4 linked regions of the Homo sapiens genome follow. The protein of the gene in region 4 interacts with the protein of the main gene of each other region in a biochemical or structural test. Each region holds a gene or a part of one and is shown on either strand. Other genes may lie near its edges.

Region 1 (3,500 bases), on a different chromosome or scaffold from region 4:
CTTGAAAGATCAAACAGAATCCAACTAACTTGACTGCATCCTAGAATAACCTCATCTCTAGTAAAAAAAAATTAGCTGGGTGTGGTAGCACATGCCTGTAGTCCCAGCTACTTGGGATGCTGATGCAGGAAGGTTGCCTGAATCCAAGAGTTTGAGGCTGCAGTGAGCTGTGACTGCACCACTACACTTGAGCCTGGGCAACACAGTGAGACCCTGTCTCAAACAACCACCACCACCACCACTACAAAATATGTAGAAAATATAAAGATAATGGGTGAAGAGCAGAAAAGGATGCTTCAAAAGCTATTGTAAATATGCTCTACATTGACTGGGTGCAGTGGCTTGTGCCTGTAATCCTGGTACGTTGGGAGACCGACGTGGGAGGATCGCTTGAGCCCAGGAGTTTGAGACCAGCCTGGGCAACACTGAAAACAAAAAAGATCTTAGATTTTGATTTTCTTTGTGTTAAGTATGCACAAGCTATTGTTGGGAATTCAAGAAAAAGTGAACAGCTCCGTTATCTAATAGATCTCAAGTTTTCAAGTCCTGGTCTGTAACAACCAAAAGGCAGTCTCACTTTAAGTATATCAGTAGATTTTATGCACAACATACCACATTCAAATTCTATAAAACAGGGCTCATGGGCTAAATGGGAGACTGATGGCAGATTTACTTACTTCAACCATTCCTTGATGGGGTCAAGAGAGGCTACAGGAATGGCGTTGATCATGGTCACTTTCTTGCTGTAGTCCTTGTAGACGATTACCATATCAAAGTTCTTCAGGTGAAACTGGACCCGCTCAAAGTGGATCAGCTCTACCTCATCCAATGTCACCACAAAAGGTGGCTGTCAGGGAGAAACTGAATCATTAGCATATAAGTATTTCCCCCAAAGCAATAATATTTCAAATAACTTTCATGATCTAAATCACTACATAAAAGATAACTTAAGCTGTTTTTTGGTTTTTTTTTTGAAAGACTGAGGCAGTACAACATACTAAGAAGCCACAGAAAAAGGATCTGCAAGATACAAAAATCATCCCTCAAGGAGAATAAACTCAAGGAAACTATGTGAAGGAACCATTTAAAATAAACTATTTAAAAAGACATTATCTTAAAAAATAAAAAATAAAAAAAAGAGAGATAGGTTCTTGCTATGTTGCCCAGACTGGTCTTGAGTTCCTGGCCTCAAGTGTTCCTCCCACCTTGGCCTCTAATTGTGCTGGGATTACAGGTGTGAGCCATTATGCCTGCCCTAAAGAGACTTTAAAAGTAACATTTGTTCAATGAGTTTTAAGTCTAAGTAAATATCAAAAATGAAAATGACAATAATTAGGATAAAAAACACCTATCCTTCTTTATTTTCTCTAACAATTTTCTTACTAAAAGAAAGTAAGAAACACTCACCCATTCCGTAGCATTTACCAGCGCACTACTAGTGGGCTGAAGGAGGCAGGTACTCCTATAGGGAGCTCCGTTAAATCTGGAAGAGACAAACTTTTAAGACTGAGCTCATCACGAGAGAGACTGCTCCTACCACAACAGACAAACTTCTTCCCTCTCCCCATTCCAAACAGCTCCAGCATACTCACTGGAGACTCATCCAGAGGAAGCCTCTTAAGAGTTAGCCACTCACCTAAACCCTTAAACATTTTCAAGAAAAAATGGATGTCTCAAAGATTATTAGTCATAGGAAAAAAGGATATGATATGTTAAATTATTATTAAAGGAAGAATAATTTATTGTACCAAAAGACAGACCAGTCAAACTTCAAGCCAAAAATAAGATAGGTTACCCCAAGTCCCTAAAAGGCACTTCAAATTCCAGTTCCTCCTTAGTTAGAGCCTCTACTTTCTCAATGAAATTTTTAAAGGCTGTTTTCAGTTTGTGCCTCATTTCTCGTTCCATCTGTAGAAGAAAAAAATATCAAATACAGCCATCACATTTGTTAACAGTACCTCCCCTCAAAAAGTCTGAAGTGCTTTTGTGCTTTAAAATAAAAATTCCAACTTTTAAGTTCAGGAGTGCATGGGCAGGATTTGCAGGTTTGTTACACAGGTAAACGTGTGCCATGGTGGTTTGCTGCACAGATCATCCCTGAAGTGCTTTCGTTGCCCTTCATTCTCTCGTAACTATAAAACTAACATGTACATACACCTTTAATATTTAAGGTCACCATGCCATTACCTGTCAAGCTGAGTCTGCAACCTAAGCCTAAACTCTTGTAATACCCTATCTCAGCAGATACTTGAGTTGCTCTGCACAAACAGATTCAGGGTTGTTTATTTATTTATTTATTTATTTTTGGAGATGGAGTCTTGCTAGTCGCCCAGGCTGGAGTGCGGTGGCGCGATCTTGGCCCACAACCTCTGCCTCCCAGGTTCATGCCATTCTCCCGCCTCAGCCTCCCGAGTAGCTGGGACTACAGGAGCCCGCCACTACACCCGGCTAATTTTTTTGTATTTTTAGTAGAGACAGCGTTTCACTGTGTTAGCCAGGATGGTCTTGATCTCCTGACCTCGTGATCTGCCTGTGTTGGCCTCCCAAAGTGCTGGGATTATAGGCGTGAGCCACTGCACCTGGCTATTTATTTATTGAGATGGAGTCTCACTCTGTCGCCCAGGCTGGAGTGCAGTGGCGCTATCTCAGCTCACTGCAACCTCTGCCTCTTGGGTTCAAGTGATTATCCTGCCTTAGCCTCCCGACTAGCTGGGACTACCACCACCCACCACGCCCAGCTAATTTATGTATTTTTAGTACAGACAGGGTTTCACCACATTGGCCAGGCTGGTCTCGAACTCCTGACCCTCAGGTGATCTGCCCATGTTGGCCTCCCAAAGTGCTGGGATTACAGGCGCGAGTCACCACGCCAGCCCAGTTTGTTTATAAAATACAATCCCTGAGCTTGGATTTGGCCTCATCCTCCCTCACTATCCTGCAAATACAATACTAAATTTCACAAACCTGCTCAGCATAGAGGTCATCTCGGTCATGCATATGCTGATGTTTCCCCAAGTCCGTGGTTATCTCTCCCACTTCTGTGTAGAACTGCACATCCGTGTGCCGCTTCTTCCCAAACATGATGGCATTCTGTCGGCATAAAACAGAAAGAACACAGAAGTCAGAAACACAAAGGTATCTGTGATGGAAATGGCAGTGATCCAAACTTGGGCCTCCACAGCATGCATGCAAAAATAATTAAACCACCCCTGGTGTCATCATAAATAATGATGCTTGGGAATGGAAACAGTGTACATTTGAAAAAGTGCTGTGCTCCTACTTATTACAGGAACTTTGGAAATCATGTTGGTAACAAATCTTATCTAAAGCAAAACTTCATTTTAGAAAGAGAAATCTGGAGATCTCGTATAAAACATTTGCTGGCCACCATATAACACACCAAAGGAACAAACATGCTTATGAGCCCCTTCTAGATGCCAGGCCTTGTGGCCTTTAGAGGCATTATTTTATTTAATCCTCTTAAATGTTCTTAAGTGAGA
Region 2 (3,500 bases), on a different chromosome or scaffold from region 4:
AAAATGTTTTAGATGTATGAATCAAACTTGGTAGCAAAATAGTGCAAAACTCTAATATGGCAGACCTTAATAGCAGGTAACCATTTGAGATTTGCTACCAAAAATAATTTGTCAACAAGAATCTTTTATATGTCTTTAAAACTTTCCTTTTTCTACTCTACCTAGAATTGTGTTCCACTGCTGTTATAAAAATCTCAAAATATCATATGTATATCATTTAGATAGAAGAGAATTATTTCCTCTTCACTGCCGCCTCCTTTAATTTCAGTTATAATTCCCTTTATAAACATTCTTTTCCTAAGGCACACCATGCCCTATTTATTGCCACAAAGCCACTAAAATCTGTGCCTCAATCTGTCTGCTTCATCAGTATGGTTAAATACAAACCACTTACTAGTGTCTGCTAAAACTTAGTATCATCAAGTCTAGAATGCCATTGGTCTGTTCTACTGGGGCAAAGGCCAAAATACACAAGCATGTGCTCATATGCTCTTTTCCCTACAAACTAACCATATTACCTACTATAACAGTAAAGCTTAATGACATCTCTGGCTACATATAATTCATACCCAATATTATAAAATAAAATGTTAGGCCAGTAAGCTTTCACAATTTTTATTAAATCCTAGTCTAGTTGAACAATATCTGATGTTACAGACATCATCCCATGGTGAACATGTTTAATAAGTGAAAGCAAGTCAGACATCTCATCTAAGTCATTATTTTCTGCAGACTAAGCAATAACTACACAGAACACTATGGGTAAACAAACACCTGCTCAGTTTTCACACAAGCCATGTTGTTTATCAAATTAGATCTGCTAATATTGAATACAGTAGATTCGGTGATTGTAGTTCTCATATAAGTATCTTATTGAGATAACATTTTGACAGTTTCACTGACTTTCCAAATAAGCATACCATAATCAAAGAAAAGAATAAAGAGTGAAGTAAAAACTGAACATGAAGAGATTAAGTTATTAAAGGAAAATGAAGTAAATAAAAAGAGTGAAAAACCATTGGGGGTGGAAGTCAAACAAGCCTAGACATTTGATTGGAAGAGAAAAGATCAAATATGAAGTTCACAAACCAAAAGTTTATAAACTCAATGCAATACAAATCCTTTTTATTGTAAAAGCTGAGTTGAAACTAAAAGATCTATAAAAACTGTTACTTTTGGCCTTAAACAGTACCAACTCTTATGATCAAAAAAGGCCACAACAGTTAAGATTGTATTACTTGATTTTATTTTACACTAGGTGGTGGGCAGACAAAGTAATCCTTAATAAAGTTGACAATTAGCTTCACTCAATATTTTTAATAATGCACATTAAAAAAAAGTATTCATCTTACAAATTCTTCTGCAATCCAAACATACAATAGCTTGGAGAACATTTAGAAAACAAAAGCCAATGTAAAAAGACAGATTAAAACAACTAGAACAGTACAGGTTTTATTTATATGGCTCGAATTTTACAGTTTTCTTACTGCATCATCAATGTCAGAAATCTGTTCCTTCAGCTGGCTCCATTGTTCTGGATTTAAAGAAATACCTAAAACAAAGTTTAAAAATTCAAAGGTGAAAATCTATTTAAGCGTTGAGGATTTTCATACTTCCAACTAGAATACTGTTTTATCAAAATTGCCACTTTAGGCTGGGCGCGGTGGCTCACACCTGTAATCCCAGCACTTTGGGAGGCCAAGGCGGGTGGATCACTTGAGGTCAGGAGTTCAAGACCAGCCTGGCCCAACATGGTGAAACCCCATCTCTACTAAAAATACAAAAATTAGCCGGGCATGGTGGTGGGCACCTGTAATCCCAGCTACTCAAGAGGCTGAGACAGGAGAATTGCTCGAACCTGGGAGGTGGAAGTTACAGTGAGCCAAGATCATGCCACTGCACTCCAGCCTGGGCAAGAGAGCAAGACTCCATCTAAAAAAAAAAAAAAAATTGCCACTTGGACACAATGCTACAATACTGAAAATCATATCTCTTACATTTGTTAATTACATATCATCACAATTTACTGAGCATTATCAATCTCATATCCAGTCTTACTTTCCACAGTGCATCCTGCATAGTACCTATTGTAACCAATGAGAATAAATAAGGGTTTGAAGACACATCTTACTAATACCCGTCAACTATCAGGCTAAAATGGTCAGGTCCAGATTTGGCATGTGATACCCCATTACTATATTTCCAGCTGGTTCCAATATTTGCCCAAAATTTCCACAGGAATTCAAGCCAATTGTGCTGAGTTCTTCCAGAAGCATTCATTTCACTTTGGAAAAATTCCCAGGACGTGATTCATACAGGACTCCTCAGAGAGTATACCCGGGTAACTGCACTCTAGGGTCACCCTATCAGGGTTAAAATTCCAGCCTCACTTTCACTAAGTGTATGACCCTTAAAAAAGAACTACATCACCTTGTAAGCCTTAGTTTCCTCACCAGTAAAATGGCATCTATACGCCAAAGAGTTGTTGTAAATGATTAAGTAACATGAATAATGAACTTAGCATATCACCTAACACATAAATGGTTAAAAAATGTGAGATATGTCTTTCCAGTTTAAGATGTAAAAGTATGAACAGAAATTTTATATTTTCTATATTTTGTACTTTAACGTTCTAGCATTCCAATACCGACGCATATAAACAGAGAAGTAAACAAGAACTGGCAGAAAGTATTCCCAGAAAACTGCTGGAAGGCCATGAAATTGAAAAAAAAGAATAAACAAGAAATATGGCATCGGCCACTCTGGTACGTGAATTACCAATCCAGAAGTGACTTGAAGAAAATATGAAAGCATATAAACACATATAGAGGCTGAGTTTAACCAAAAAAAAAAAAACTGCATGAAGCAAACAAGTGGTACCTTTCAAACTAACAGGCAGGCAGAATAAAACTAAATAAGGAAGCATTTTTCTTTAGCTGAGGGTCAACCTAGAGCAGCAATCCAAATATACAAATTTAGGTTGGCTCACCTTCTCTAGCTGTTTGGTGAATTATACAAAATATGTTTCTACAATGCTAAGAGGCTTGGGACTGGATGAAGCACAAATGGAAGGAAAGCAGAGATCCGCTTGAAGAGTAATGCCCTAAAGAATAGCTTTTAGGAGCTGAATCAAAAGGAAGCATTGTAAACCAAGATTTTCCATTCCTGATTTTACAAGTTCCCAGATAGTGCCTAATCTGCTTCAGAATTGCATAAACCTTTTTAAAAATTGTTCAAGTAAATTAGCAGCCAACTGAAGTGATATTAGGGGTGTTACTTTTCTGGGTTTTATTCCCAAAAGCTGTATTAAGACATCTCATTAAAAAAATGTTAAGTATCATGTCCAAAATAACTACAGAAGATAGAGAATCAATTGAGTAAGACTCTTCCTTGCCCCGTGTGTCCTGCCAACATTTCAAGTAAGCTACTCAGAAAAGTTGTCGTTTAGTCCTAACACTGTAATAAAATTCAAGTAATTAGACCTCACCTTTTCTTCCTGG
Region 3 (3,500 bases), on a different chromosome or scaffold from region 4:
CCTGCAGCTTCCAGATGTGCTTGCTCTCCTTGGAGACCTGGCCCACTGTCTCGCCCATGAGGGCAATGAGCATGTTGAGGAGCAGCACAAAGGTGAGGATGATGTAGGTCACCAGCAGGATGATGAAGACCACGGGGTACTTGGTGCTGCTCAGCATCTCCAGGTCGCCCATGCCGATGGTCAGCTTAAACAGGTCCAGGAGGAAGGTGCTGAAGGTCTCGCTGTCACGGCACGAGGGGTAAGTGGGCACTGTGCAGTTGGTCTGGTCCTCATTGCACACCTTCATGTTGGCACACGGGTTCAGGAGGGAGACCAGGGCTGTGGGAGGATAGGGGTGGCACTCACTGAGTGTGAGCACACCCACAGAGAGGTGGAGGGTGTCATTCTCATTTGCTGGAGGAGAAAGCTGAGGCCTAGTGAGCGGAGCACGCTGGCCCACACGCTGACCCATGTCACCCTACACATCAGCCAAGCCACACCAGACCCAGGTCCTCCTGATCCCAAAACCTTTGAAGCCTTTCCATAAACTCTTGCTGATAAGGAAGAGGTTATCTCTCTCTCTCTCTCTTTCTTTCTGAGATGGGGTCTTGCTATGTTGCCCAGGCTGGAGTGCAGTGGCTACTCACAGGCTCAATCCCACTACTGATAAGCGTAGGAGTTTTGACCTGCTCTGTTTCCAACCTGGGACAGTTCACCCCTCCTTACACAACCTGGTGGTTCCCTGCTACCGGGAGGGAAAAGGTTTTCAGGATCTAGTCCAGGGAGGGTCTCAGTTTTTCCCACCAGGGGACATTTGACAATGTCTAGAGACATATTTGGTTGTTACAACTGGGGGTGGGGGTGCTACTGGCATCAGGTGGGTGGAGGCCAGGGGTGCTGCCTGACACCCTACAATGCACAGGATGGTCCCCGCCACGAAGAATGATCTGGTCTCAAATGTCAATAGTGTTGGGAAATCCTAATGCGGCCTACCATTCTTAGAGGTCTTGGGGGCTCTGGAATGCCCCTATTCGCAGGGGTAGACTCTCTCTCTGACAGTTTCCCACTCCACCCCAACCCAGAGAGGAAAAGTGGGGGCTGAAACCAGGCATCAGTCCTGACTGTCCCCAAAGCCGTGTTCTCTAAGGGGCCTCTCCTGCTCTAGACATCTCAAACTCATCATGGTTCTCCTTTCCTACTAAGCCCAGGTGGAGCTTCAGATTCCTTCTCAACACAGTTTGGCAGCAACAACCTGTCCCTAAACCAGCCAGGGAGGGGAGCATGAAGAAGACTCAGTCCCATCAGTCAGTGGGGCACAGAATGTCATACTGCCTGCAACCAGGGATTAGAGTATGCAGATTTCAACTCATATGCTAATGTTCTTCAGTTGTATAGTACCTGGTGAAACACTGTGTTGAGAAGGATTCTGAGACCTTGTCTGGACTCACCGGAAAAACTGTTCTGTGATCCATTAGTGATGTCTGCTATGGACACCAAAGTGTGGGAACAGAAGCATGTGTGTCCTGTTTATGTCATGTCAGCCTCAGAATTGAGATCTAGTGCATCCTATAAGGAGAAGACCTGCAACCAAGCTGACTGCTAAGCTGCTACTCTAACCCTTGTTTCTCCTTAGTTTCAATAACTAGGACTGCAGTAGGGCTAGATCCCTGACCTGAATCCCAAACTGTTGTTGAACCCTTGACACTGTCTAGTTTGTCCAGTGTGATCCCTGGGAAGGGAAAGCTGTACCCTGTCCCTATCTCCCCAGTGAAAACTACAATTCCACTTCCCACCAATAATCTACCTAGAGACTTGGCCACTATCGTGGGTTAAAATATCACCCTTGTCAGATTCCTGTGCCAGGCTCGTCCCCAGATGAACCTGCTCAGATGTGTATGTGTCCAGGTCTAACCTGAGTTGGCCATTCCCCTTTGGATGCTGGGCATTGATGTCAGATTACCCACACCTCGGGGATCAGCCCAAGGACTTGGTCAGTTTCTCCAGCCCTGGTCCCTGGTCCTTCTCCCATGACCCATGCCACTGAGGTCCCAGAATGCTTCTTAGTGGCATCATGACATCACGAAGAAGGTATATCAAGGGAGCTGATGTTGGGCTTTAAGAAAATACCTGGGCTGCTAGTTTAATTATTAAATTTTATCCTTCCATGTATCCATCCTCCTTCAATGTGGCTTTACAGCTTCTCCCACTAAGAAGTGGAGTCTAGGCCAGGTGCAGTGGCTCGCGCCTATAATCCTGCACTTTGGGAGGCTGAGGCAGGAGGACTGCTTGAGCCCAGGAGTTCAAGACCAGCCTGGGCAACATAGCAAGACCCTGCCTCCACCAAAAAAAAAAAATGGAAAAAAAGAAGTGGCGTCTATTTCCCCATCCCTTGAATCGAGGCTGGCCTTGTGACTTGCTTTGGCCAACAGAGTAAGGCAGCAGTGATGCCATGCCAGGAGGTGTCCTTGAACACTTCTGCTCATGTTCTTGGAACCCTAAGGCCACCATGTGGACAAGCCCAAGCTAGCTGTCCAGAAATGAGTGACCATGTGGAAGATAGATAGCAAACCCCCTCTAACCAAGTCCATACTAGCTAGACCAGTCAGCCAGCAGCCAGCCTGCCAGCTGACCACAGGCACAAGAGCCTGTAGGGATCAGCCAAACCTGGCCCAGGGCAGCACAGCCACCCAGCTGACCCATTGACTCATAAGCAATAGTAAGTTGGCCTGGTACAGTGGCTCACGCCTGTAATCCCAGCACTTTGGGAGGCCAAGGTGGGTGGATCACTTGGGGTCAGGAGTTCGAGACCAGCCTGGCCAACATAGTGAAACCCCATCTCTACCAAAAATATAAAACTTAGCCATGCGTGGTGGCACACGCCTGTAATCCCAGCTATTCGAGAGGCTGAGGCAAGAGAATCGCTTGAACCCAGGAGGCAGAGATTGCAGTGAGCCAAGAGCACCACTGCCCTCCAGCCTTGGTGACAGAGTGAGACCTTGCCACAAAAAAAATAATAATAATAAGTGGGTGCTATTTTAAGCCCCACTTTAGGTGGCTTCCTTTGTAGCAATAGCTAATACTCCAGTTTTGCCATTCACCAGCTTTTTTTTTTTTTTTTTTTTTGAGACAGAGTCTCGCTGTGTTGCCCAGGCTGGAGTGCAGTGGTGCCATCTTGGCTTACTGCAACCTCCACCCCCTGGGTTCAAGCGATTCTTGTGCCTCAGCCTCCCGAGTAGCTGGGTCTATAGTTGCGCGCCACCATGCCTGTCTAATTTTTGTATTTTTTGGTAGAGACGGGGTTTTGCCATGTTGGCCAGGCTGGTCTCAAACTCCTGACCTCAAGTGATCTACCCGCCTCAGCCTCCTGAAGTGCTGGGATTACAGATGTGAGCCACTGCGCCCGGCCACCATTCACTGGCTTTTGAACTTGTGCTAGTTATTTAACCCTCCTAAGCCTCAGTTTCCTTTTCTATAATAGGGGATAATAAAGGCACTTAGCTTACAGGCTTGTTGGGAGGCAA
Region 4 (3,500 bases):
GCCTATGGATGGATGAGCTGCCACTGAAGTGGGGGTGGGGTGGGGGGGCAAAAGATGGCAGCAGCAGTGGCAGTTCATGGACAGATGTCTTCCCAGAGCCTATGGTCAAAAGGTGTTTAGCATTCTGTGACTCACAGCTCTGTCCCAGCAGCCCTGGTGCCAAGACCACCCCCTCCAGCAAAGCACCCAGGAACACTAGCCTGGCTCCATGGACAAAACACAGGGGGCCAGGCGTGGTGGCTCACGCCTGTAATCCCAGCACTTTGGGAGGCCGAGGTGGGCGGATCACGAAGTCAGGAGATCGAGATCATCCTGGCTAACACAGTGAATCCCTGTCTCTACTAAAAATACAAAAATATTAGCCAGACGAGGTGGCAGGCACCTGTAGTTCCAGCTACTCGGGAGGCTGAGGCAGGAGAATGGTGTGAACCTGGGAGGTGGAGGTTGCAGTGAGCCAAGATCGCGCCACTACACTCCAGCCTGGGGGACAGAGTGAGACTCCATCTCAAAAAAAAACACACACAGGCAACCCATCCAACGAGGAACATAGACACACTACTCTCTAAGGACCAACACAAGCCCTCCAGGGCAGAAGGGGAGAAGAGCAAGGCCCCAACATTTGGCTAGGCCACTGAGGGCAGGGGGATTAAAAACCTCTAAGATTGGCAGGGTGCGGTGACTCACACCTGTAATCCCAGCACTTTGGGAGGCCAAGGCAGGCAGATCACCTGAGGTCAGGAGTTCAGGAGACCAGCTTTGCCAACATGGTGAAACCCCATCTCTACTAAATATACAAAAATTAGCCGGGTGTGGTGGCAGATGCCTGTAGCCCCAGCTACTTGGGAGGCTGAGGCAGGAGAATCACTTGAACCCGGAAGCCGGAGGTTGCAGCGACCTGAGATTGCGCCACTGCACTCCAGCCTGGGCAGCAGAGCAAGACTCCACCTTAAAAAAAAAACAAAAACAAAAACAAAAACCAAAAAACAAAAAAACCCAAGGTCCTGTTATTCAGTAATAGAAAGGAATGAAGCACTGATGTATGCTACAACATGGATAAGCCTTGAACATATTATGCTAAGTGAAAAAAGCCAAGTAACAAACAACTGCATATTCTATTATTCCATTTACATGAAACATCCAGAACAGACAAATCAATCAAGCCAGAAAGTAGATTAGTGGTTGCCAGAGGCTGGAAAGGGATGAGGAAATTGGGGGATCATAGCTAAAGAGTGCTGGATTTCTCTTTAAGGTGATGAAAATGTTCTAAAATGGACTGTAGTGATGTGATGGACGCACAAATCTGTGAATATACTAAAAGCCACTGAACTGTACACTTCAAAGAGGTGAATAGTATGGTACATGAATTACATCTCATTAAAGTTGTTAAAAGAAACACACCCAAGGGCTCAGCACCAGCCAAGGACGCTGAACACTGCTTGAAATGTCCTAGCACAATCCCCAAAGGCCAAGGGGTCCCACTTAAAACTTTCATGAAGGGTGAGGGGAGTGGGAGCAGGGAGGAGACTATAACTTGCTTCAGAGCAATGAGTCCAACCTCCCTCCTCAACACTACCCATTTCATGGAGGGAGAAACCAAGAACCAGAAAAGAGAACTGCCTGAAGACCACAGAAAAGCTTACTGCAGAAACAGGACTCAAATCCACGTTGCCTGGGCAGAGACCCCTTCCTGCTTCCCCACCAGCTAGCTACCCAATTCCAGTTGGGGTAAGAAGAGCCCAAGAAATCAGCAGGTTCCTAGATGCCAAATGAAGGGCCTTTGCTATCAAAGATAGGTTACTAGGAGTGGACAAAGGCTCCTAGGAAGAACCAAGATGACCCTGGGGCAAACTGCCCATTCTGGGCAAGAGGAAGAACCGGCCAAGGTCCAAGGTGTGCAAGGTCAGACACACCTGGGCATGGACAAACTTTTGCAAAATGGGCAGCTGAGGGGGCAAGTAGTTTGCCTAAAGCTATAAAGCAGGTAAGGAGGAGATGCTGAGGTCTGGAGGTGATGAGAGAATTGAGGGATGATGGCTCAAAGCTTGCCTTGCTCCAAAGCCCAAACTCCACACACAACTCTACCTCTCTACACCACTATCCAACAGGCCTCCTGACAGGAAATCCCATCGAGCTTGTTCATTACAACATGGCTGCCCACAAAAAATGGCTGTTCATCAACCCTGAGCCTCACACAAAACAGGCTGCTTGTCCTGCCCACCAAGCTTGGATGGCTGAGAGGGAACAGAGGAGCCAGGAAGAGAGGGGAGAAACCCAGTTCCTCCTCAAAAGACATCCACCATTCTTTGCCACCTCCAGGTCCAGAGAACTTTGGACTGAGTTCCCTAAAATCCCAAAGCTAAACAACACCTCACCAGCATTTTGCCTGGCCAGTGAGGAAACTGAGGCCCAGAGAGCATAGGTAGAACCTACCCTGGTTCATCCAGCAAAGCCTTGAAAGACCCAGAGTTGGAACCCAGGCACCAACTACCGTGCCACACCCAGCTTTTTCCACCACCTCAGTTCACATGCCCCTTCTCAAAGAGCTCTGTGGGGTCTCCAAACTCAGGATGCTTACAGGCCAACCTTTTCATAGAGCAGACTCTCAGCAAGGCAGCCATGCCTGGGAACCCCTGACATCACCACCCACCCAGCACCTGGACCCCAGAGTGCCAAAAAGACTCCTAAAGGAAGTAGGGATACAAGAGAATCAGGACAAAGAGGAAGCCCAAGTAGTCAGAACCCCAGAATCGCCATCTAGACTCCCCCTCAACGACGCCTCTCTTCCCAAGGGATCCAACTGACCTCCAGGCTACAACCACCCCTAGTGACAGTTTAGGACCAAGACTGGGGTGGCAGGAGGAATCTTCCCTCTTCTCATCCCCAAAAGCTCTCAAGTTGGACCAGGTGAGGCAGGGAGAAGAGGATCACCTTCTTTGTCCTAAGAAGTGTGGGGACAGAAAGCCTCTCCTGTCATTGGGAAGGGCAGGTTTCATGAACCCACAAAACTTGATTTTCATATTCTTTTTTTTTTATTAGTAAAGATGAGGTCTCGCTATGTTGCCAAGCAGGTCTTGAACTCCAGGGCTCAAGTGATCCTCCCGCCTCAGCCTCCCGAGTAGCTGGGACTACAGGCATGCGCCACTATGCCCGGCTTACTCTTATGTTCTTATGGGGACAAGTATAAGGGAGGGACTGCAAGGGGCATAAGGAAGTGTTTTTGAGTTACCATGGCAGCATAGGATGTTCTTTCTCTCTGTCCCTGGGACCAGGGATGTATCGCAAGGGAGGGGAGTAAGGAGGTGTTTTTGAATTATCATGGCTGCATAGGATGTTTTTCCTCTGTCCCTAGGACCAGTGATGTATGGCTCCCTGCTTCTAGAGGAGGAAAGAAACTACCCAACCAGAGAGAGAAGAAATAACTGGTCCTGACCCTTGAGTACAAATGGCTTATCGTGCCAGAATTAATGATGGGAGGAAGGGACCAAGAACAAGGAGCTCAA

Evidence for each region.
Region 1: the proteins of OTUD5 (region 4) and SUPT16H form a complex in vitro, tested with the Homo sapiens proteins (one study listed by BioGRID).
Region 2: the proteins of OTUD5 (region 4) and SUB1 form a complex in vitro, tested with the Homo sapiens proteins (one large-scale study listed by BioGRID).
Region 3: the proteins of OTUD5 (region 4) and TRPV4 interact in a test that uses a peptide from one of them, tested with the Homo sapiens proteins (one large-scale study listed by BioGRID).

The regions. Positions count from the first base shown.
Region 1 is NC_000014.9:21,356,520-21,360,019, forward strand, and holds part of SUPT16H (FACT complex subunit SPT16), read right to left. Parts: intron 3,091-3,500; coding exon 2,965-3,090; intron 1,909-2,964; coding exon 1,796-1,908; intron 1,484-1,795; coding exon 1,408-1,483; intron 848-1,407; coding exon 678-847; intron 1-677. UniProt on the Homo sapiens protein: Component of the FACT complex, a general chromatin factor that acts to reorganize nucleosomes. The FACT complex is involved in multiple processes that require DNA as a template such as mRNA elongation, DNA replication and DNA repair.
Region 2 is NC_000005.10:32,599,057-32,602,556, reverse strand, and holds part of SUB1 (activated RNA polymerase II transcriptional coactivator p15), read right to left. Parts: coding exon 3,488-3,500; intron 1,553-3,487; coding exon 1,473-1,552; 3' UTR 1-1,472.
Region 3 is NC_000012.12:109,788,399-109,791,898, forward strand, and holds part of TRPV4 (transient receptor potential cation channel subfamily V member 4), read right to left. Parts: intron 345-3,500; coding exon of another isoform or gene 319-344; coding exon 2-318; intron 1-1. UniProt on the Homo sapiens protein: Non-selective calcium permeant cation channel involved in osmotic sensitivity and mechanosensitivity. Activation by exposure to hypotonicity within the physiological range exhibits an outward rectification.
Region 4 is NC_000023.11:48,951,108-48,954,607, forward strand, and holds part of OTUD5 (OTU domain-containing protein 5), read right to left. Parts: intron 1-3,500. UniProt on the Homo sapiens protein: Deubiquitinating enzyme that functions as a negative regulator of the innate immune system. Has peptidase activity towards 'Lys-48'- and 'Lys-63'-linked polyubiquitin chains. Can also cleave 'Lys-11'-linked ubiquitin chains (in vitro).